Linked DNA regions of Homo sapiens: all the other regions are linked to region 1. Evidence: fine-mapped expression QTL. A gene starts in region 1. Each other region holds a variant in brackets. All regions are shown on one strand. Distances are between the middles of the regions.

Region 1 (8,163 bases):
AATTAGAGGGGTGAGCCACCGCACCCAGCTGCCAACTGGTGTTTCTAGGCAGCTGTGGGCTTTTTCTCCCCACAGGCATGCAGTTCTTGAAGATTTTTCCTATTGGTCATGAGTGCAGAAGAGCAGGAGGCTGAGCTGAACCTATGCCAGCCCAAGACCAGGCCAGACTCTGCTGTCCTTGTGAGGGAATAGGGGTTCCTGATTTTGTAGCTTTTCACAAAATGGAAGAGACAGAAAACAAGTTCCAGATCTTGAACCTTCCCCATGTGTTTGAAGGCAGTCAAGGGTTTCCTGATTTTACATTCAAGATACTTACACTCAGGGCCGGGCATGGTGGCTCACGCCTGTAATCCCAGCACTTTGGGAGGCCGAGGCAGGAGGATCACCTGAGCCCAGGAGTTTGATACCAGCCTGGCCAACATGGTGAAACCCCGTCTCTACTAAAAATACAAAAAAAAAAATTAGCCAGGCTGGTGGTGTACGCCTGTAGTCCCAGCTACTCAGGAGGCTGAGGCAGGAGAATCACTTGAGCTCTTATATATTGTGGAAATTAACCCCTTATCTGATAATATAGTTTGTATAAGCTTTTAAAAAATAAATTGTATATATTTAAGGTATACGACATGATGTTAATGACATACACACACATATTAAAATGGTTATTATAGCCAGGCACTGTGGCTCACACCTGTAATCCCAGCACTTTGGGAGGCCAAGGTGGGCGGATCACCTGAGGTCAGGTGTTCGAGACCAGCCTGGCCAACATGGTGAACTCCCATCTCTACTAAAAGTACAAAAATTAGCTAGGCGTGGTGTCAGGCACCTGTAATCCCAGCTGCTCAGGAGGCTGAGGCAGGAGAATCGCTTGAACCAGGGAGGTGGAGGTTGCAGTGAGCTGAGATGGCCCCATGGCACTCCTGTCTGGGCAGCAAAGCGAGACTCTGTCTCAAAAAATAAAAAATAAACACAAACGGCCAGGCACGGTGGCTCACACCTGTAATCCCAGCACTTTGGGAGGCCAAGGTGGGCGGATCACCTGATGTGAGGTGTTCGAGACCAGCCTGGCCAACATGGTGAAACCCCGTCTCCACTAAACATACAAAAATTAGCCGGGCGTGGTGGTGGGTGCCTGTAATCCCAGCTACTCTGGAGGCTGAGGCAGGAGAATTGCTTGAATCTGGGAGACGGAGGTTGCCGTGAGCCAAGATCACGTCACTGCTGACAGAGCAAGACTCCATCTGAAAAATAAATGAATAAAAAACTAGGCCGGGCACGGTGGCTCACGCCTGTAATCCCAGCACTTTGGGAGGCCGAGGAGGGCAGATAGTGAGGTCAGGAGATCGAGACCATCCTGGCTAACATAGTGAAACCCCATCTCTACTAAAAATACGAAAAATTAGCTGGGCGTGGTGGCGGGCACCTGTAGTCCCAGCTACTTGGGAGGCTGAGGCAGGAGAATGGCGTGAACCTGGGAGGCAGAGCTTGCAAAGTGAGCTGAGATCGCACCACTGCACTCCAGCCTGGGCAACAGAGCAAGACTCCGTCTCAAATAAATAAATAAATAAATAAACTAATAACTAAATGTTGTAACACAAAAGAGGATAAATGCTTAAGGTGATGGATATCCTGTTTACCCTGATGTGATTATTACAAATTGCATGTCTGTACCAAAATATCTCATGTACCCGATAAATATATATACCTACTATATACCGACAAAGTTAAAAATAGAAACTGGAAGACAAAAAATAAATAAAAATCAAATAAAGCTTCTCATTTTGTTGTCTGCCTTTGGTAGATTTCCAGCCCTGAAGTGGCTGTTTTTGAAAACTGTTTTCCCCCAGTTTTATTTTTGTTTATCCCTCTCTGGAGGGATTTGAGTCCTTCTTTATACCTCCACAACTCCAAGTCCCTCCTCTCATTATCGTTTTAGATGAGGAAAGTGAAGCTCAGAAGAGATGAATCAATTTGCCCTAGACCATGCAGCTAGGAAGCCTGGGAGCCAGCACTAAACTCAAGTGTTCTTTTTCTTTGTTAAGAATTTTATTCGCCAGGCACGGTGGCTCACACCTGTAATTCCAGCACTTTGGGAGGCCGAGGCAGGCTGATCACGAGGTCAGGCGATCGAGACCATCCTAGCTAACACGATGAAACCCCGTCTCTACTAAAAATACAAAAACAAAAATTTAGCCGATGTGGTGGTGTGCATTTGTAGTCCCAGCTACTTGGGAGGCTGAGGCAGGAGAATTGCTTGAACCCAGGAGGTGAAGGTTGCAGTGAGCCGAGATCGTGCCACTGCACTCCAGACTGGGCGACAGAGCGAGACTTCATCTCAAAAAAAAAAAAAAGAAGGCCGGGTGCGGTGGCTCACGCCTGTAATCCCAGCACTTTGGGAGGCCGAGGCAGGTGGATCACGAGGTCAGGAGTTCGAGACCAGCACGGCCAAGATGGTGAAACCCCATCTCTACTAAAAATACAAAAATTAGCCGGGTGTGGTGGTGGGCGCCTGTAATCCCAGCTGCTCGGGAGGCTGACGCAGAGACTCACTTGAACCCCGGAGGCAGAGGTTGCAGTGAGCCGAGATCGCACCACTGCACACCAGCCTGGGCGAAAGAACGAGGCTCCGTCTTAAAAAAAAAAAAAAGAATTTTATTGACATAATCACTGACATACATTTTTAGTTATTTACACCATACAATTTGACATATGTATATACCTGTGAAACCACCACAGTCAACCCGATAAGCACACATCCATCACTCCACTTCCTTGTGGCTTTGTTGGCCTCCAGGCTACACTGGTCTGCTTTCCCTCAATCTAGTTTGCATTTTCTAGAATTTTATGTAAATGGAATCATACAGTATGTACTCTTTTTGTCTGGCTTTTCCCACTCAATATTAATGAAATTCATCCACGTCGTAGCACATGTGAGTACTGTTTTTTTTTTTTTTTGGTGGGGGGGGGATAGGGTCTTGCTGTGTCACCCAGGCTGGAGTGCAATGGCATGATCTTGGCTCACTGCAACCTTAGTCTCCAGAGCTCAAGCGATTCTCCCACCTCAGCCTCCCGAGTAGCTGGGATCACAGGCACGTCAGCGCACTCAGCTAATTTTTGTATTTTTTGGTAGAGACAGTGTTTCACCATGTTGGCCAAGCTGGTTTCGAATTCCCGAACTCAAGCTGTCCTCCTGCCTCAGCCTCCCAAAGTTCTGGGATAACAGGCATGAACCACCGTGCCAGGCCACTTCATTCTATTTTATTGCTAAATAGCATTCCCTTGTACAGATATACAAAAGCTTATTTACCTGTTTACCTGCTGACGCCTTTTTGGGTTGTTCTAGGCACATACGCCTGCCAGGACACGTGCTTGTGTTAATGGATCCCGCCCTTTCTCCTAGGAGTGGGATAGCTGGATCATATGGAAGGTGCAAGTTTAATATTTTAATAAACTTTTAATTTAGAATAATTTGCTTTACAGAAAAGTTTCGAATATAGAACAGAGAGATCCATTTACCCCCACGCAGCTTCCTTTGTTAACCTTTTACATTCCTTTCATACATTTGTCAAAGCTAAGAAACTGACATTGGTACAATGCGATTAAGCTCCAGACTTTATTTGGCTCTCACCAGTTTTTCCGTGAATGTCTTCTTTCGGTTCCAGGATCCAGCCCAGACCACCACATTGCCCCGTTTCCCTATGCCCCCGGCCCAGTGCCCTCGGCTGCCTTAGTCTCTTCCTCTGTTTATGCTTAAAGCAGGGCAGGCCTTCCAACAACGCCGGCTGGAAAAAACCTCTTGGGCTAGGAAAAAACCTCTGGGCCGACACCGCCTCCAGTATGCTGGGTTCCAATGCTGCCTCCAGCTGTGTTGATTCCCTGATTATCTGTGTTCCCAGGTCATTCCCCAGCCCAGCCTAGCTGCTCCCGAGAAGACAGTGAAGGTGTGACCCCACATTTCCAGAGCAGCTCTGCTGTGCTCCATGCGAGGAAAGCCGGGGTTGCTGTGGCTTCTAGCGCGGAGAGCGGTCTCTGGCCTGGGCAGGTGACGGGTGTGCTAGGGCCCGTGGCCCGCGGGTGTGCAGGTGCTGCCTGGTGGCGCGGGCTTGGGGACGTGGCTTGGCACGTGGTGGGAGGTGGAACCTGGAGGGCGTGGCCGAGCGCCTGGCTGGAAGGAAAATGGGGGGCACAGCCTGGCGTTGGGGGGTGGAGGGTGTCTGTGGCAGGGGGCGTGGCCTGGCGCGTGGAGGGAGGCGTGGTCACCTGTTGAGGGTTGGGGGCGGGCTGATGGGAGGCGTGGGTTCAGCTTGGTGCGTGACAGTTGTGGGGGCATGGCGCGGCCTAGCGCGTGGCCCTCGGGGGCTGAGGGCGTGACCTTGCACGTGGCCGTTGGTGGGGCGTGACGGGGGCGTGGCCTGGCGTGTGGCCATGGGTGCTGGGCGTGGCCTGGCACGTGGCCTGGCACGTGGCCGTTGGCGCTGCGTGACGGGGGCGTGGCCTGGTGCGTGGCAATTGGCAGGACGTGATAGGGCGTGGCCTGGCGCGTGGCCATGGGGGGCTGGGCGTGGCCTGGCACATGGCCGCTGGCGGCGCGTGACGGGGGCGTGGCCTGGCGGTCTAGGGCTGGGGGCGCGCAGACTCCGCTGCGGCGGCGTGGCTGTGGGTCCCGGATTAGCGGCGGCATGGGACGGTTGAGTTGGCAGGTGGCGGCCGCGGCGGCTGTGGGCCTGGCTCTGACTCTGGAGGCGCTGCCTTGGGTGCTGCGCTGGCTGCGGTCCAGGCGGCGGCGGCCGCGGCGCGAGGCGCTGTTCTTCCCGTCTCAGGTGACCTGTACCGAGGCCCTGCTGCGGGCTCCGGGCGCGGAGCTGGCCGAGCTCCCCGAGGGCTGCCCGTGCGGCCTGCCCCACGGCGAGAGCGCGCTAAGCCGCCTGCTGCGTGCCCTGCTGGCCGCCCGCGCCAGCCTGGATCTCTGCCTGTTCGCCTTCTCCAGCCCGCAGCTGGGCCGCGCCGTGCAGTTGCTGCACCAGCGTGGGGTGCGAGTGCGGGTCGTCACCGACTGCGACTACATGGCCCTCAACGGCTCGCAAATCGGTCTGCTGCGCAAGGCAGGTAGGCCCGGCGGGGTCCAAGCGGAGAAGGCCGGCTTGGCCCACGCGGGGTCCTAGGCGCAAAGGTGGACACTTAGGGGAGGGGGTCTGGGGACGGGCTGAGGCCTCATTTACTTTCCTCGTGGCCTTGTGGGGTCGGGGTGGTGTAACGCGGAGAAAGCAGAGCCCCCACAGAAGGTCTAGCCGGCTGCGTGGGCATAAGCGAGCCGGACCCTCGGTGCCTCCGCGGTGGGGGCGGTTCTCTCAGTGAACTGTCCCGGCATGCTGGAAGCAGGTGGGCCTGCGTGTGCCGGGTTAGAGGCGGAGCAGATTCCCCTAGCAACTCCTCGGGCGCCGCCGGCGGAGTTTTCGTGACTGCTGCAGCCCGGGCCCGCCCTCCTACGCTGCCGGAGATCCCCGGACGGCCTCTGGTAACCTGGATCCTGGTGGCAGGGGAGCTGGACGCCAGGGTTGTGCTTGGACTTCCAGACTGAAGGGCTCTGGGGAGAGGCGGCCACCTGCTGCCCAGTGAATCTCAGGCCACTGGGCTCTGGGAGACCTGAACATGTTCTAGAAAGCAGCGCCAGGACATTCGGTTGTTTTCCCAGCTGCAAAAGGAGGGGAACACATATTTCTGGCGGGGGCGCCTCTCTCATGGGGTGGGGACAGAAGGGACCAGGAAATGTGAATAATTGGGATCCTTGTCCCACCTGAGGATTCTCAGTCCATCCTGGCCCAGTTCGGCGGCCCAGCCTGCTGTTGCCTTTTGTGTATCTGCACTCACAGACTCTTGGGCCTGTCTCTGTCTCCATCACTCAGGCACCCAGAAAGTCACGCCTGCACGTGCAACGGTTGGATCTGATAATACTGGTGGTCGCAGTGACCGAGAGATGTGTGGAGCCCTGGGAATTGTCCAGGCTGGGCAGTGGTCACCGCCGCGCTGTTCCTTCTGCACAGCCATAGCCTCTTGTTGACTTGGGCCTCAGAGCAGCCTCTCCAGAGTCAGCCAGGGTCCCTCCCTGCTCTGGGTGGTGTGGGGCATGTTGCACGCCATGTGGGAGCAGAGTGGGGCACGTGGTTTTCATATTGAGGATGTCTCCTTCTCTTTGGGGCAGCCACAAGAGCTGTCCTCCCATGTGTTGGTCATTTTAACGGGAGGTTTGGGGACCTCCAGGCATGCACAGTACAGTTCTGTTTGAGTTGCTTTTACAGTCGTAGAAGCTGAGGTTGGTGAAGACCCTTCAAGGGCCCCTAGACCAAGGTCCCATCGGATCCCCTCTGGGATGGCCTCCCAGCATCCTCGCTGACTTCGAGGCTGTCCAGTGGCATTCACTGTTCAAGGAATGTCCCCTCTGTGCCAGTATTTGTGAGGAGCTGGAACATCCTAGGGCACAAGGGCACAAGGCCAGGTTGCCACGGAGATGCCAACTAAGTCATGAATATTTCATTTAGGGCACTGAGAAGGGCCAAGAAAACTTCATAAAGCAGGGTAAGGAGGCAGTGGTGTGGGAGGAAGTGGCGTGGGCCAGGTCAGCTGCCCAGGGGCAGTGACACTCAGGGCAGGGACCTTGCTGACACCAGTGGACTGTTCGGAGGGAGAGGCATGCGGCTGGAAGGGGCAGCAGCACAGTCGCCCTGGGTCACAGACTGACTTCCTTTTGAGGAAGGGCAGGAAGTCCCCTGTGGCCAGAGGTGGCAGGCCGCGGGGAGGGGACGGGGAGGTGGGCAGTGGATCCCAGCGGAGGCAGGAGGTGTGGGCGATGGTGGGGTTTTACATTGCCCACCGTGTGGAGGAATGTGTTTGGAGGGCTGTGCCGACAGGACGTGCCAGAGGAGTGGCCAGAGTGTGAGAAGAAGGGCTGGCTCCTCGAGGTAAGGAAGCCACCACGTCTTCATCCTGCCAGGCCCAATTTAGGGGGCACAATTAAATATGAGTTCCATGCACAGGGAGTGATTTTTAGGGTATGTTCCCAGTACTCCATGGGACACACTTCCCTTCAAAGATTACTCTTTATCTGAAATTCCATTTAACTTGGATGTTCTGTATTTTGATTCGGAAAATCTGGCAACTGTGTTCCATGGCAGCCTGTTTAAAACTTCTTTTAAGCCCCATTTCTGACGGCCTCATTCCTTAAGCAGGTCGTGAGTGAGGCAGTGTTATTCCAGGGGAGACAGACACAGGCCCTTCCCAAGAGGAGTTTGAAAGCTGGGAAGAGCAGAGGCCGGGATGCCTGGTTCTTTGGTGAAGGAAGCAGGGGGGTGCGGAAGAGGAGAATTCATTTGTGCGTTGTTAGTTAGGGCCCTTCCTGCCTTGGTGGCCGAGGTTGTGCCAGCAAATTGGGCTCTGCTCTCAGACGCCGGGGCCTCTCTGGGCAGAGTGGGCACGCTCTCAGCCTTAGCTGTGGAAGAGTCAGAACCTGAAGGCTCACACGCTGTCTTTGCCCTGGTCACCTCTGACTGGGTTAGTGACAGCCTTGGCAGCAAGCAGTAACCCCGAAGGGACATACTGGCTGGCATAGACTCGGAGGTGTGGCCTCACCCAGACCACGGCCTGCCCAGTCCCCCATAGCCTGTGTGTGACGCTCTGGCCCTGTGTGTGATGTCCCCTCTGTGGTTCTCAGCGTCCCTCCTGGGAGCTTAGCCGCCACCACTCTGTGAAAGCATGGCGGGCTTTCCTGGCCCACCAAACTGGAAACATATAGTAAAGCCAGTAGCCCCCAGGAACAGTCCACACTGGGGGCGGGACTCCTGCATGGAATGAAATCACCTTGTCCTTTCTGCAGGGATCCAGGTCCGGCACGATCAAGACCCAGGCTACATGCATCACAAGTTTGCCATCGTGGACAAGAGGGTGCTCATCACTGGCTCGCTCAACTGGACCACGCAAGCCATCCAGAACAACAGGGAGAATGTTCTCATCACGGAGGACGACGAGTACGTGCGGCTTTTTCTGGAAGAATTTGAGCGCATCTGGGAACAGTTTAACCCTACAAAGTATACCTTTTTCCCACCAAAGAAAAGTCACGGAAGCTGTGCCCCACCTGTCTCCAGAGCTGGAGGGAGATTGCTTTCATGGCACAGA
Region 2 (8,176 bases), 56 kb after region 1:
AAACACATTCGAGATGTAATCTACATCACATGACCTGAGAAATGGCACCAGAGGTGCTCAGATGCGTGGAGGCTCTGAAGGTGGGGACAGCAGAGTTCTGGCCATCAAAGGACCAGCCCCCACACTGGAATCTTCTCTGCTTTTTTTGTTTTGTTTTGTTTTAGATATGTCTGAGTCTTCTGATTCTCCATCTTTTAAAATGAGAACTAGGTCTTTAACCTTCAGGGCAGGAGGAAAAAAGCCCAAAGCAAAATCTGAGACACATGAACCACAGAATGCAAAAACAGGAGAGGGTTTTTCAAATTGGCTGCACAGAAATCAAACAGACGTAGGAGTGAGGTGAAAAGAAGGCCAAGACAAAGAAGCACTGGGTGGCCTATGGATGCCGCACATGGGGCCACCCTTAGAGCAGCAGAGCCCAAGGCCTGAGAGCACCGACTGCGGGGCTCAGGCTGGTCTGGCCAAGTGCCTGCTGACACAGATGGAAGATTCTCCACCAAAGCCCAGTTCTAATGACCAGCACACATGCTACCTGCAAGATGAAACGCTTGGGCTTACAAGAGAAAAGAACCAGAAATGTTTGTTCTGATTACTTGGGACAGGAACCTGAGCAACAGAAGGACACAGGAAGGAAGGAGCAGCAGACTGGGATGCACTGAGCTCAGGTCTCAGACTTCAGACCTGAGTCTGACACTGCCCTGGCGGGAGTGGCACCCACAAGAGGCACAAAGGGCTCCCTGGTGTCTTCACCATCCTACCTGGTCACATCCGGGGCAGTGGTCGGGTGCACGTGCTTCATGATGGTCTGGATCCAGTTCCGCCGAATCCCAGATGTCATGGCCGACAGGGTAAACTCGCCCTCCTTTGTCTACAGAGAAAAGATGAGGCACCATCAGTGACTGTCCCCTAGGGTGCCTGCTGCCCTCCATCTCCAAAGAAGCTCCCTGCACTGGGTAAAGTCCCACAGGGAGAAAGGCTGTGACTGGGTGACCCTTCTAGGAGTGCCACATGTGCCCACTACTGGGACATGAGGGAGCTGGAGAGCAGGAGACGTCAAAGCTGTGGGAGGGACGTGTATTTGTGGCAATGGTAAATCCGGTATCTTCTCTCAGTAACAAGCTCACAGTTACTGAGCACCCACTACGCACCAGCAGCCTGTCCACTCAGACAGAGGAGGATGCTGCACCCCTCTTTAAGGAGTTCCCAGCCTCGGGGGAAGGGCAGAATCAGCATGTGCTGAGCAGTGGTGGAGGTGGGGAATCCGGAAGGGCGTGTGTGTTGGGCGTGGGGAGTGGCACCTGCAGTCTGCACTCACACAGGCACATGGCATGATGGGCCCAGGGAGTGGTTAAGAACAAGGGGTATCAGGGTCTTGTTGGTGGCACTGAGAAAAGGCAGGGAGACCTGCTGGGTGGTTACTGCAGCTGTCCAAGTGATGAGAATTAAGGTGATGGCAGGGGACAGGGCAGCTCAGAAGTAACAAAAGGGGTATGAACAGCGTCTGGCTGGTTGGGTTGGGGAGCACCTAGACAAGCCCTAGACTCCTGCTTGGATGAGGTGGAGTCTAGGGCTTGTCCTCGGTGCTTGTGCAAGGTAGCAGGGGAGGAGCCTGTTTTGGGCGAGGAACGGGGCAGCAGGTAGGACAAAGCAGCAAAGAGCACATGGCTCTGGGACATGACCACTGCGCCCCTGAGCAGACCTGCCTGGGTACCAGGCAGGGGAGGGCCAGTGGCCTGCATGGAGCTGGAGGCCTGCTTCTGCACCTACAGGCACCTGCCCAACAGAAGCGAGGGCTGCAGCCTTGAACCGAGAGCTGCTCACAAGCAGACTCAGCAGCCAGGTCAGTAGGGAAGCTGACGGCAGGATGCAATCATGAGGATGGTTTTCGGATGGGTGCTAGTGGCCTGGCCAGAAGCCAAAACAGGAGATCACGCACCGGCCTGACGTGCCACAAAGCACAGCTGGGAGGGACCTGACCTGCCCCTCCACATGCCCGATCAAGACACCACCACTGCCCAGCTCGGTCCTCCTTCATCAGTTCTCATATCCATGTGAGCTGAGTTGGGGGGGTACCACCTTCTCCTGGGTCCATCCTTCTCCACCCCCAGGTGTGGGCGTTGCTGGAGTTTGGCCTCAGCACTCCACATACAGCTGTTTTCTCCAGCTGAATTTTCTTTCCCAGCGGCTGCCTAATGTTCTCTGAGAGCCCATCATGCCTCAAATGGATCACAGCCGGAATTCCAGGGGATCCCCCTGCTTCTGTGAAGTCAGCTCTTCTGCTGGCTTCTCAGTGGGCGGGGCCTTCTTGCCAGGTCCTGGCCCTGCCCTCACCTCTTCCTCCCAGGTGCTGCTCCTTCCTTTCTTGCCCAGCTTTACCGTGCCAGCCTGGTTCCTTTCTAATGGACCTGCATGTCCCGCCAGACATGTATCATGAACGCACAACTGACTGGCATCTTCTAACACCCTTCAGTGCTCTCCACAAAGGCTGGACCAGCGCCAACCTGACTCTCCACCCAGCACTCTAGCCCCAGACTGGCTCTGTGCTCTCTGTGCCACCAGGTCTGGAGTCCAGTCTGGGACATGCTTTCACACTCATCCCTCCTGCTGAGCCTTGAGGGATCCTTCTCCAGGAAGCCTCCCCCAGGAAGCCTTCTCCACACTGGAAGCATCTCCTCATTCCTTAGAACTCTCAGTAGTTGGGGATCACCGAAAGTCATCAGGATAAGCCCTACCAGGGTGAAGTGAGGAGGGGTTGATCAGTGGGTGAGAGTGGCTGATGCCCTCATTTGTCACTAGGAGAGCGGGGTGAGTTCTCAGACTTCAGGTGTGCCCTGCCTGGAGAAAGCTGCTCATGAAGATGGGAGGTGGACGGCAGGAGAGGAGGCTCACCGGGCACTATGCCCGCCTACCCCTCCCACAGCGGATGAGGACAGAGGAGCCTTGAAACTTGGGCAGTGCAGGCCACTAAGAGCAGACAACTCACACCCGGCCCTGGTGCCAGGCTGTCAGTGTAGCCTCCAACTGTGACTCAGCTCCTCTCGCAGATGCCTGCACGCAGGAAGCCACAGCCAGCAGCCCAGTGGGCTGGCGGCCAGGATTTTCTTAGTAAATGAACACACTGGCCTTTGGGTCTATACTTCAGTCTCCTCTAAGTTGGGCCAAACTGAGTGAGCCCCAAATACTGGATCAACTCTCAACACAGCAATAAAATTGAGTTTCTGGGCCCCAAAATTTGAAGGTATGACCCTGCTACAGGTGAGCCCACCAGAGTCTAGCCTTGTGTGAGAACCAAGTCCCAGGGCCAGGGCCCAGCCCCATGGGGGCAGCTCTCTACTCATCACACTCTCCACCCATCTTAAAGCCCTTGCGAGTGACGAACTAACTTTACCCAAAGAGAGGCCTGGCCTCTGTCCTAGCTCCTGGGAGGTAACTTCCAAACCTTGGAATTTCCTGAATGACTAGAGTCTTTGTTACTCATGGTGGTACCCTGGGACCCCACCTAACACTTCATGCTGACAAGACAACTCAGGGTAGAG[G/C]CTGGCCTGGCCAGAAGCAGGAAATTAGAGGAAACCCATTAAATCAGAGGGTTGGGGTTTGGGCCATGTGAAAGTAGCCAACCATGGCGGGAAGGGCTTTAGGTGGAGTTCAACTATGAGGACAACAACTCCATCAACCACAGCAGCTACAGAGCCTCCTAAAACTCAACACCGGGGCTCAGGTGGGCTTCCGGGCAATGCTCTGCGCACTGCCCCACATCAGGGCTAAGAGGACACCGTGTCCCCAAGGATGCAGAAACTTTTGGCATCTGTGACTCCCCCAGTCCCAGATTCTACTCCACATGGCTCTCCCTTGGCTGGTTCTGACTTACATACTTTCTCTATAATAAAACTCATTGTAAAGACAGTACTTTCCTGAATCCTGTGAGTCATTCTAGTGAATTTTTGAAACTGAAGGTGGTTTTGGAAACCTCCGGACTCACAACTGGTGTCAGAAGTGGGGGCAGGACTGGGCACAGTGATTCATGCCTATAATCCCAGCACTTTGGGAAGCCAAGGCAAGTGGATCGCTGGAGCCCAGGGGTTCAAAACCCTCCTGGGCAACATGGTGAAACCCTGTCTCTCTAAATAATGATAATAATAATAATAATAATAATAATAATAATAAGCTGGGCATGGTGGCATGCACCTGTAGTCCCAGTTACTCTGGAGGCTGAGGTAGAAGGATCGTTAGAGTCTAGGATTTCGAGCCTGCAGTGAGCCATGATTGTGCCACTACACTCAAGCCTGGACAGAGAGTGAGACCCTGTCTTGGGGGAAAAAAAAAGAAATGGAGGCAGATGTGGCAGTCAGGAGGACTGTGCTCTTAACCTGGAGTCTGGCTGACTGCAGGCAGTCCTTGATCCACACAGTTTTGAAGAAACAGCCAATAAGAACCATTTTGTCCTACCAATAAGATTTTTTTTTTTTTTTTTTTTTTGAGAACAGTGCAATGCCTTGCTCATCTGAGTACCTCACAAGATTTTGGGAAAAAATAGCCTTGTAAGTAAATGAATGAACAAACACATGAATAAGTGAGTAAAAAGCGGATGTAAATAATTGACTAACACTTTCATTCTTATTCCCCATACCCCACATCCTTCCAATTGCCCCAACTCCAGCATTACAAAAAACAAAAGAAAAAAGGAACCTTCAGAAACAAAAAAGCTTTAAGCAGTCTTCAGAAAAAAGATACTAACGTCTAATGTACTGTTCACATCACAAATTGGGGAATAGGGTCAGGTGCCACAGGACAGAGGTGTCAAGGGTAGTGGGAAAGACTAAGTGCTGACCATACACGCTGCATCAGGCCTGTCCAGAAGTGCCCCCAGCCCAGACATTAGGCACTCTGACATGCATCCCTGCCTGTCAAGCCTGTGGCCCCACTTCCATCCCTGGACTCACATGTATCTGGAAGCCATAGTTTCTCTGAACTGGATACTCTGTGACATCGTAACATGCGGACAAGTCAATTTCTCCATCCAAGTCGGCTGCCTGCCGAGGGAAGTGAGAATGTCTTGAGATTTTTAGGAAGTAGAACCAATGCCTAGATGAGCAAATTTCCGTAAGTGATTTTCTGCACTGACTTTACTTTTAATAGTATACACACTGACAAGTGAGGACACCGTCTATCCTACTACTGCATGACCCAGGCCCCTCACTGGGTGCAATCACACCACCATCTGTCCCTGTATCCAGCCAAAGATAGTCCACGCCAGTGGTCCTCAAACATGCTGCTGTTGAAATCCCTTCACACTCTTAAAAACTGGTGGCCCTAGAAGAGCTTCTGTTAGGTGGATTTCATCTATTGATGGTATTTACTATGTTAGAAATTAAAATGTAAATATTTTAAAAATTTTAATTTAAAAATATTTAAATATATTTTAAAATATATTATAAAATATATTTTATACATTTAAATATATATGAAAATATATATTAATATAAATGTAAAATTTAAATATATTTGTTCATTTGAGAATAAAATAAATTCATTTTAAAATAAAAATCTGATTTAACAATCAGTGATAAGAGTCACATTGCTTTGAATTTTTGCAAATCTCTCTAACATCTGTCTTCAGAAAGGACAGCTGGATTCTTGTTTCTGCATTCCATCTGTTCAATACGGAAGTTTTTTTTTTTTTTGAGATGGGGTCTTGCTCTGTCACTCAGGCTGAAGTGCAGTGACACGATTTCAGCTCACTGCAACCTCTGCCTCCCGGGTTCAAGTGATTCTCTTGCCTCAGTCTCCCGAGTAGCTGGGACTACAGATGACCACCACCAAGCCCAGCTAATTTTTGTATTTTTAGTAGAGACAGGGTTTCACCATGTTGGCTAGGCTGGTCTCAAACTCCTGACCTCAGGTGATCCGCCTGCCTTGGCCTCCAAAGTGCTGGGATTACAGGCATGAGCCACCGCCCCCGGACAACAAAGGAAGTATTTTTAATAGCTTTTTCAGGTAGTTGTGGCTGTTCTTTGACAAGCAGTAGGCTCTTAAAGGTTAACTGCAATGTGGTATCTGAAATCATGCCCATGAACTCTCTGTACTGTGTTACATTAAAACCCAGGCATGCTTTTGTAACATTAGGTACTGGTCACATGGAAAATATTGTTATGCACAGCTTCCAATTGTCTACACATTTCATTATGTAATATTAAAATATCGCCTTTGCTAATACCACCACCTATTTCATCAGGAGAGTGTAAGTAAAGGGAAGTTCATGATGGTGAATACAAATTTTCCCAAGTTCTAATTTTTGCTTGGAAGCTCAAATTATATCACTGGCAACAAATTCTGTCAGTTGTTTTCCTTAGAGGAATGAGCCAACTTGGTTCATTTTCATGAAAATATATGCCAAACACCCAAAATTAATGACCACAGTTTTGCCTATCAGTTGTTTTTCAAGTAAACGTGGTGCTCCAAAAGAAGCTGCTAGTTCAGCTGGCAACTCAATCACACAAGTCCTTTCCATGAGAAAGCCTGCACACTCTAGTATGCAGCCAGGCGATGCTTACTTCCCATTTCAAATCACAGAATATTAAAAAGATGGGCATTTAAAGATTGAGGCTTCATAAAATTAGTAACTTCTGCTGCTCTTTCAAGGACCTTATTTATTTTAAAACGATTAATTATTTAAAATGTATGGCAGTGAAGAATCCAGTGACCACTGGTCCAGCCTGTTGCTACAGATGGGGCTGTGCCAAGTGCTAGTGGCTTTACCTCCCATTGCTTTTGCACCATCAGTGCAGATGGTCACACGCAAAAAAAAGTCAATGACATCTTAATATTACAAATTATTTTAACCACCACTGCTCTCCTGAAAGGGCCTCAGGGACCCCCAGAGGTCTACAGACCACACTCGGAAGTGCTCTTCTATGCACATGCAACCAAACACTTACATAGGCTCCTTACTTCCCCAACGCTGGACACCACCAGAGGCCCACCGCCCACACTCTCCTACCCCTACTTCTTATCACTACCACCTTTTCTCCTTCAGTCTGTAAAGACTGGCTCAGAGTATTTAATACATATCCCGGCCCTTAATGATGGGTATTTAGGCTCTTTCCAATCATCTGGCTGTTACAAACGTGTGGGAATGACTAACCTGAAACAGACGTTTTTCCACATGTGGGAGTTATCTGAGGGATTCCTGGAGTGAAACTACTGGGGAAAAGGCAAAGGAGACTTGCCAAACTGTTTAGAAGAGGTTATTTTATTTGTAGGTGAAGAAAAAAAGAACCCCTTCTATTTGGTCCTTGACCACAGAATCAGGACTGTCCAGGGGCCCAAAAAAGCTCATCTATCCTATCCTGTCCTTGTCCAGAAGGCAGGGCACAAGATGTAGTTCAATTCTTCCAACTCCATTTACCATGAAATCTCTTTGTGGAAAAAACAAAATTGTTCATCCTGAGTTTTCAAATTTCAGTGTTTTTCAAAGAACAGAGAAAAGAAAAGCTGCCCAAACCCACTGCACTGGGCACTTAATTCAAGGCCTTGACGAAGCCCAGCATCACAGCCAGGAAAATGATCACAAGGACAAAGGCTGGTCTTGTGCTCACCTTCCCACCAGGTCGGGACTGGGAAACCCAAGAGGGCAACATGGACATACCTTCGGCAAGGTAACACCACCGAAGGGCGCTGTCCTCAGAAGTGGGGACATTAGCCCAGGGGGAAGCAGATCTACTAGCCCCAGATGCCGCCTGGACCCCTCCAGCTGTCTCCACAGCAGAGGCAAAGCCCAGACACTCACCTCCTCAGCCACTGAATCCCTGTAGTATCTCAGGCTTTGATCGGCGAGGACAAACCAGTGTTTCTTCCACTAAAGGGGAAGAAAAGAAAAATGACTCGACTACCAACTCCTATACAGCATGCCTGCCACGCCACGGCGGTGCGCAGCCAGAGCCTGTGGGGCCCTCCCAGAGCACAGGGAAAGCAGGGGACAGGCTGGCCCCTCCCTTGACAGCATACAGAGGACTCTGCTCGGACTGCAGGCAGCCATGCGCTCACACCCTCAGGACGCTCACTAAGCTGTGACCCTCCAGTGAAGAGGCAGCACAGACAGCTGAGCAGGCCTTGGCTGTGGGCTCTATGACCAATGGTGTGGCTGGTGGCCAGGCCGTGCGGTCCTCAGTAACTACAG
Region 3 (8,176 bases), 200 kb after region 1:
CACAGCTGGGTCTAATGTGGGGAGCAATGTGGGGCAGGGGCAGGGCCAGGGCCAGGAAAGGGGCCTGCAGCTGTTGGTAGGCTAGCGGGTAAACAAACCCATTACAGTGGAGGTGTGCTGCTGACCGCCTTTCCTACAAGCTCATGGGCCGCCTTCACAGCACTTCCCCTGCTGCTTTTTCAGTGTAATCTTACAGCTATTCTGTCAAGACACCATGTTAAACACTAGTGGAAAAGTCACTGTGCAGAATTACCATATAATCTAGTAATTCCGCTTTTGGGTATATACCAAAAAATACCCCAAAAATAATTGAGATCAGGGTCTCCAACAGATGTTTGTTCACCCATGTTTATAGCAGCATTCTTTTTTTTTTGAGACGGAGTCTCACTCTGTTGCCTAGGCTGGAGCGCAGTGGCGTGATCTCAGCTCACTATAGCAGCATTCTTTACAACAACGAAAAGGTGGAAGCCACCCAAATGACCATCGATAAACAAAAATGTGGTCTGTGCGTACAATGAAATATTATTCAGTCTTACAAAGGAAGGAAATTCTGGCACATGCTACAATATGGAAGAACGTGAGGGCGTAATATTCCGTGAAAAGACAAACTCTATATGATTCCACTTATACGAGCTAAGGGAAGGGGAATGGGGAGTTACTGTTTACTGTTCATTGGAGACAGTTTCAATTTGAGGAAGATGAAAAAGTTCTTTTTTTTTTTTTTTAAGAGACGGAGTCTCGCTCTGTCGCCCAGGCTAGAGTGCAGTGGCCCTATCTCGGCTCACTGCAAGCTCCGCCTCCTGGGTTCACGCCATTCTCCTGCCTCAGCGTCTGAGTAGCTGGGACTACAGGCGCCCGCCACCACGCCCGCCTAATTTTTTGTATTTTTAGCAGAGACGGGGTTTCACCGTGTTAGCCAGGATGGCCTCGATCTCCTGACCTTGTGATCTGCCCACCTTGGCCTCCCAAAGCATTGAGATTACAGGCGTGAGCCACCGCACCCGGCGAAAAAGTTCTTGAGATGGACGATGGTAATGGTTGCACAACAATGAGACTGTGCTTAGTGCCACTGAACTGTGCATTTCACGATGGTCAAGATGGTAAGTTTTATGTGGACAAAAAGAACACGCTATGTGTGGAGGGGTGCAGTGGCTGGAACCCCAGCACTTTGGGAGGCTGAGACAGGCGGATTACTTGAGGTCAGGAGTTCGAGAGCAGTCTGGCCAATGTGGTGAAACCCCGTCTCTACTAAAAATACAAAAATTAGCCAGGCGTGGTGGCGCACGCCTGTAATACCAGCTACTTGGGAGGCTGAGGTGGGAGAATTGCTTCAACCTGGGAGGTGGAGGTTGCAGTGAGCCGAGATTGTGCCATTGCAGTCCAGCCTGGGCGAAGAGTGAGACTCCGCCTCAGGAAAAAAAAAAAAAAAAAAAAAGAACATGCTATGTTTGTATTTAGGATCTAGGTTTAGCTACGTCTAACAACAGTGGCTTTAACAAGACAGAGGTTCATTTCTCCAGCACACTGTCTAGGGGTGGCAGGGCAGTTCAGGGCTGCGGTGGCAACTCTGCTCCATGCAGTTATTCAGGGATCCACCCTTCTCTCTCCCATCCCTAGGGTGTTTCTCTTGTCCATGTAGCTCAAGACAGTGCACCATCATGTCCACATCCTAAACAGCAGGGTTAAGAAAGTATGGAAAAGGGCTTGCCCTCCCCTTAATAATTTTTTTTTTTTTTTTAAGAGACTGGGTCTCACTCTGTCACCCAGGCTGCAGTACAGTGGCACCATCATAGCTCACTGCAGCCTAGCCTGGGCTCTAGCAATCCTCCCACCTCAGCTTTCTGAGTAGCTGGGACTATAGCCACATGCCACCATGTCCAGCTGAATTTTTTTTTGGTATTTTTTGTAGAAATGGGGTCTCGTTATGTTGCCCAGGCAGGCCTTGAACTCCTGGCCTCAAGTGAGCCTCCCACCTCGGCCTCCCATAGCTCTGGGATTACAGGCATGAGCCACTGTGCACAGCCAGCTCCCACCTCTCTTGAAGCACTGTCATTTGGGGCCTCTGTTCTAGAAGGGGGTGCAGTTGCTGCTTGGTGTGTTGTCCATCCCCTCCACAGGATGGCAGCTGCATTTAATCTCCCGTGGCCACCATGGAGGTGCTCTTCTCAGGTCGGCCTTCAAGAGAGAAGCCTCTGCAAGAAGTGCAGTCAGCTGACAGCCTCCAGCTACTTGGGGATCTTCCGCCACATTCAAATCATCCTGCCCAACCTGGGACCCCAGTACTGGCCATCTTTGCTCCAGAGACCCCCTGGGGCCGGGTGAGGCTCCCCCGCCCAGCTCTCCAGTGGCCCCTCTCCTTCACAAGCATTGTGCTTGGTGCGCTCCATGCTCTCCCTGACTGCTCTGCCCCTCGCCCCTTTCTCCTTTACAGCTCCTTCTCCTAACACAGTTCTTGTATCTCTAACTCCAACCTGTTGTCTACTTCCCAGGGGAGCTGAACTGACACCTTTGCCCCAGGCCATATCCCCAGCACACAGACAAGTGCCTAGCACATAGTAGGCGCTCAACAGAATTTCCAAGTGAGCACAGAAAACACAGTGGGCAGTCAATACATGTGTGTTGAACTCAGCAAATTGCACAGCAGCTGGGAAACAGCCGTCGCCGGCTCCTCTGAGCGTGGTGCTCCCGCAGCCCGTGTCAGCTGCGGTGCTTTGCCAATGCAAACAGGAGTGGAGAGTTAGACCCAGGCCCACTCCAGCTGCTGGGCCCCTTGCTCAACACAGCCCCTTCCTGCCACCTGCAGGGTGGGGTCTTCCTGAGCCCGCAGAGGGCACAGAAGGAAATACCTGCTCCCGGCCATGCAGGCCTCCCTGGCATGGGCACCCTGAGAGTCCTGGTCCCGGGAGCCAGGAATAACAAAGAGGCTGCCAGGGCCGGGCCCCTGGGACCTGAGGGCTGAGGGCAGAGCATGCCTCCCTGGTTTGCTGGGCAGGAGGCTGATTGGGCTAAATGGACTTTGTTGATGGTGACCCTTTGTTCCTCCATGGCGGCTCCGTCTGAGGAGAAGTTTTGGAGGCTGTTCATTCTCCTGCTTCCCCTGCTGCCACCCCAGAGACAAGGAGAGCAGCCTCCCAGTGGCCTGTTGGTTTGTAAAAGAGTCAGGTGTGGGAGGTTGCATCACGTGCTTCTCTGGACTCGTGGTCTGCAAGGAGGTGTGACAAGTGTGGCTGTAGGTCGATGAGCTGTGTGCGGCTTGGTAACGGGCAGTGGATGAGCCAGGGGGAGCAGCAGGTGGCCCAGCCCCAGGGATGAACATGGGGGAACTGGGTCCGATGTAGGCAGGAAGGAGACATCAGCAGCAGCAGCCCAGGGGCGTGGTGGAGGGGTGCGGGGGGGCCAGAGACAAGCCAGAGATGCCTGGATGATCCATTTTGCAGAAATAACAATCTCGAATCCAGGGCTGGGCCTGGCTGTGGCTTGGCCTGGCCAAGGGTGGTGAGCAGCAGGTGTGCTGATTGTAGTTAAGAAGCCATCGGTGTCAGACCAGAGTCCCCGGGCTCTGCACCTGAGGCTGCTGCGAGAGGAAAGCGATAGGGGCTCAGGCATGCTGAGGAGGTAGGTGGGCACGTGAAGGTGGGCCTCCAGGAAGGGGACATGAATACAGCAGGTCTTGGAGCTTTCTCCTTCAGGGGCAGGGGCAGGAGGACGGCCACCTGGCTTCACCACGAAGGGCCCGAGAGCATGGCATGGAGGGAGAGGCAGATCTAGAGAGAACACCGGCCAGTCTGCGGAGGGAGGTGGAGGAATGGGTTGAAGAGGGAAGAATTCCTGACACAAACTCTGAAATGACAAAGGAAAAGAATGACAAATCCGATTACACAAACATGAGCAACTTCCAAAGACCAATCACAAAAAACAAAACAATCACAAAGTCCCCACCAACATGGCTGAAAATAAAACAATTAGCTGAGAAGAAATATTTGTCACCTACAGACCATGGCAGACAGAAGATTTTATTTTAAAGCACCCTACAAATCACTAAGAAAAAAGCCCCAAAGAAATAGCAATCTGGAAAAGGACACAAAAAGGGAACGTGCAGAAGAAGTGCCAGCAGCTGCCAAACCCACGGTCCACAAAATCCTGGATCAAACAGGCAGGAGACAGCATGACAAGGTGCCACTCTCTGCCCATCGGGTCGGCACAGATTTAAAAACAAGGACCTGGTATTGCCAAGGATGTGGGGAAAGAGCCCTGTGGGTGAGGGTGTCAATTGGACAATGGCTGTCAACTTCTAGAATAATCATGTGTGCTTCCCTTTGATCCAAGAATCCCGCTGGGGGAAATTATTCCTGTAGAAATGTTTGCTCAGGTGTGCGAAGACACCTGCGTAAGACTTTTCATCTCAGCATTGTGTGTGATGCTGATGCCACAGCGTGGTGCCTAGACACCTCCTGGAGAGGACCCAGAAGGCCCGGCCACAGGTGGGGGCCGTGTTGCCATGGTCCCTGCCCAGAGGATGCCTGGCTGGTGCGGGGCAAGAGGGAGGTGGTCCTAGAGGCAGCCTTGCCTTGATCTACCCACAGGAGCGCACTGGACAGGGGTCCTGTGAGTGTGGGATCAGGGTCCCCCAAGCCCCATCTGCCCTCTGGTGCCCAGTGGCATTGAGCAGTTGTCTTAGCCACTCTGACCTCCACATCCTCCTCTGTGAAACGGGGTGTGACAGGACTACCTCTTGGGCTCCTGAGATCCTGGCATGCGTAGTGCTGTGTCAGGCGCAGTTCTAGGCCCTCTACCTTCACTGGGCCTAGGCAGCCTCCTACCAAAGGAGGATGAGAAGACACAGAGAGGCTGAGCAATTGCCTGAGGTCACACAGCTGCCCAGTGGCCGCAGAGGACACAGCTGGTGTCCCATCCATCAGTCACCCACCCTCCCCATGCAGGACTCGCCTCTTCACGTCTAAGCCTGGGACGCCTGAGCAGGATCCTTGGGCTGCTTCTCCCAGCTGCAAGGACGGGCAAGTTCCACCGCTGGAGGCCTGGAGAGTCCCTGTCCCAGGAGAGGGTCTCAGCCAACAGTGGCTGTGGGGGTGGCGGACAACTA[C/T]TCCAGCCCCTTGCTCCTCAGCGGGGCAACCTCTGGGGCCTGCTCCACGCTGTCTCCCAGGGCTCCCCACAGCAGGGAGCCTGGTGCTTCCCTGGTAACTGCCTTGATAACACATACTTTACTGGCTTCTTCCCTTCCCTGCCTCTCGTGCCCTCCCCTGGGGCTTCCTGCATCTCCCCAGCCAAGCACTTGCTCTGGAATCCTTGTTCTGGGGTCTGATTCTGAGCCCTGCCCGAGACAGTGGCAAAGCTGGAGTTGGGCCAGACAGTCGGGCTCCAGAACCTACCTTAAAAAAGTTTTTTTTTTTTCCCCATCTACTCGGGAGGCTGAGGCAGGAGAATGGCGTGAACCTGGGAGGCGGAGCTTGCAGTGAGCCGAGATCGCGCCACTGTACTCCAGCCTGGGCAACAGAGCGAGAATCTGTCTCAAACAAAAAATAATTTTTTTTTTTTTTTTAAATAAAGAGACAACAGGGTCTTGCTTGGCTCTGTCATTCAGGCTGGGGTGCAGGGGGCAGGCAGCCTCGAACTCCTGGGCTCAAGCCATCCTCCTGCCTCAGCCTCTCCAAGCGCTGGGATTGCAGGTGTGACCCACTGCAGAATCTGTTCAGTGGGGCGGCTGGACTGGTTTCGACCCACTGGACTGGTTTGCAAAACCCCCCACCCGGCACAGTCTCTGGATATTTTCCTAGACTGTGACAAGCGGCCGCTGCCAGGGGAGAGTGAGGGACCCTTTACCCTCTGTGCCCCTCTGTCCCTGGGTCAGAGCCCTGACATTTATTGCACCCACCCACCCCAGGGACAAAGTCCTCTGCACAGGGCGGGCAGCCAGCCCCTCGACCAAGGCCTCAGGAAGGTAAAGAAGCCGGGTCCACCCGTGCTCAACACCTGACTTCAGTCCAGGGTAGGCGGCCCAGGGCTCCTCTCCGCCCAAACTGGCTCCTCCCAGCGCCACCCAGAACGAGGGGTGCCGAGGGGCCCAGCACCTAGGTCAGCGGCGCCACCTGCTGGTGACCATTGGGAGGCGCCGGCGCCTGGTTCTCTGCAACATTCCGGCTCCAGAACCTACTTAAAAATTTTTTTCAAATAAAGAGACAACAGGATTTCTCTTCGCTCTGTCATTCAGGCTGGGGTGCAGGGGGTAGGCAGCCTCGAACTCCCGGGCTCAAGCCATCCTCCTGTCTCAGCCTCCCCAAGTGCTGGGATTGCAGGCGTGACCCACTGCAGATCTGCATTCTTAACCATACTCTACAAAAGCCCTTCGCTGAGAGGATGTGGTAGGATAGCCCTCCCTACAGTGCCCAGCACTGGGAGCACCTTCATACACGAAGCTGCTACTGCTGCTCCTGTCTCCCAAGACCTTATGTGGTCCCAGGCAGCCTGGAGGGCATCCCTCCCTCGGCGAAGACCAAGAGTTCCAAAAGGACACAGACACAAGAGGCCTGGGTCTCTGAGGTCCTCCAAGGGCCATCCTTCCAGTCCCAACCCCTGCTTGTCTCACAATATTTCTCAGGAGTGGTCCTTTAGTCTCTACTTGCACACTTCCAGGGACAGGGAACTCATCAGCTCTCAAAACCACTTGAGCCAACATCTGTCTCTCACTGGCTTGGCTCTGCCATCTGGGAGTCAGTGAAAATCCTGCTGGCTTGGGAGAGCAGGAGGCCCAGGTGCTGCAATGCTTGAGCTGTCGCTGTCAGTCCCTTGGCCCTTCCTGGGCTGCTGCCCTCCAGGTGGGCTCACGCACAGCAACTTCACTTCTTCCTCCTCCGTCTTTTTTGCAGAGAAAAGATTTGAACATCGAATATTTTTAGGAAGAAGAGTTTCTGTTTGAAAAACCTGCCTTCCATGGCTGCACAGCAAATCTGAGGAATCTCTTACTGGCCCTGGGTTTCACATTTACATTACAAGCAGAAGGTTCACATTGCTGTTGCCAGAGAGTGGGCTTGTTCCACGATGGGGGTCACCCACGCTTGCAGCAGATGCTTAAGATCTGAGCACTGGACATACAGGCCCTGGAAAGACAGAGAGACTTCCTGCATGGAGCTTACTGTCTGGGGGAGCAGACCACCTCACCATCCCACAGGGAAACAGACCGTCACAGCACGACAATAGCCTGGCAGGAGGGGTGCACAGAACCCTGGCAGCTCATCCTGGGGAAGGTGCTCTAGTCTGGGAAAAGGCTTCTCAGAGAAAGGGGTCTGTTTTATTTTTACTTTTTCATCATAGGAAGAGTGCACAGTTTAAGTGTTCAGCTTGATGAAGTTTTACCCATGGGTGCCTCAGGCTCAGCCCCCAGACCAAACTGGAGAAGACCAAGTTCGTGCCCAGCCCCTAGAGGGCTCCTTTGTCCCCTCCCATCCAACACTCCCCCCACCCCCCGAGAAGTAACCATTCTTCTCTACCCTTGTGCCATAGATTAATTCTGCTTCTTTTTGAGCTTCCTAGTAATGGAGGTTTGTGAATGGTGCTCTTTTGAGTCCGGCTTCTTCACTCAACAATGACATCTGTGAGATCCTCCCATATTGTTGTATGTGGTCGTCGGTGATTCTTTTTCATTGCTGTATAGTATTTCATTGTATGAATATACTGTCATTTGTTGATGTTTTCTGTTTATGGATATTTGGGCTGTGCTGGACAGTGATAGTTTTTGGCTGAGTGGAAGTTACCTTGCTATGTGGAGGCAGAGAGGATAGGGAGGAACACTTGATAAGGCAGGAACAACATACACAAAGACCTTTGGCAGGAGGGAGCCTGCCTGGGGCCCTGAAGGCTGGTGTGGCTGAGGGGCATCCCTTCCTGTACCCTGCTTCTAGGCCGCTGTGTTCTGAGTGCCTGCTGCTTTGGCCTGATATGTGGCCCTCCACACTCATTTCCACCTCCTCCTCCTGTGCCTTCCTGACCAGCAGGGACTGGGAAGCTGAAGGCTACATTTCCAGGTTCCCTTGCAATGGCTTCCAGGGTTAGGATCCACTAGTAACACGCCCAGGTGAGATCAAGGAGGCGGGGGTGGGGGACATCTTTTGGCAGCTCTGGGCTGTGTTCTGCCACCCAGCAGGGTCACAGGCACGTGGAAGTG

Which allele goes with the higher level. Positions count from the first base shown, and alleles are read on the strand shown. Sizes are in standard deviations (SD) of each study's normalised expression.
As copies of G replace C in region 2, the expression in Th1 cells of the gene that starts at base 4,630 in region 1 goes up (moderate effect, 0.68 SD a copy in Schmiedel 2018).
With allele C in place of T in region 3, the expression in lung of the gene that starts at base 4,630 in region 1 is lower (small effect, 0.19 SD a copy in GTEx).

The links. PIP is the estimated chance that this variant, and not a neighbour inherited with it, causes the effect.
Region 2: its variant is fine-mapped to the expression of PLD6 in Th1 cells (Schmiedel 2018, PIP 0.95). The same link has a PIP of 0.9 or more in Th1/17 cells.
Region 3: its variant is fine-mapped to the expression of PLD6 in lung (GTEx, PIP above 0.99).

What each region holds. Positions count from the first base shown.
Region 1 is chr17:17,202,800-17,210,962 of GRCh38, reverse strand. It overlaps PLD6 (phospholipase D family member 6), which reads left to right and starts at 4,630. Exons shown (of 2, transcript NM_178836.4): 1 at 4,630-5,103; 2 at 7,865-8,163. The coding sequence starts at 4,677. RefSeq lists silencers at 4,322-4,371, 4,412-4,661, 4,782-4,831, 4,852-4,971 and enhancers at 3,597-4,436, 5,492-5,611.
Region 2 is chr17:17,146,998-17,155,173 of GRCh38, reverse strand. It overlaps MPRIP (myosin phosphatase Rho interacting protein), which reads right to left. Exons shown (of 24, transcript NM_001364716.4): 11 at 7,787-7,855; 12 at 4,941-5,030; 13 at 759-868. Among named protein-coding and RNA genes, the nearest start is that of PLD6, 55 kb to the left of the region's middle. RefSeq lists an enhancer at 4,754-4,833. The variant G/C (reference allele first, on the strand shown) is at 3,537.
Region 3 is chr17:16,999,890-17,008,065 of GRCh38, reverse strand. No RefSeq gene overlaps it. Among named protein-coding and RNA genes, the nearest start is that of LINC02090, 16 kb to the right of the region's middle. RefSeq lists an enhancer at 2,804-3,332. The variant C/T (reference allele first, on the strand shown) is at 5,102.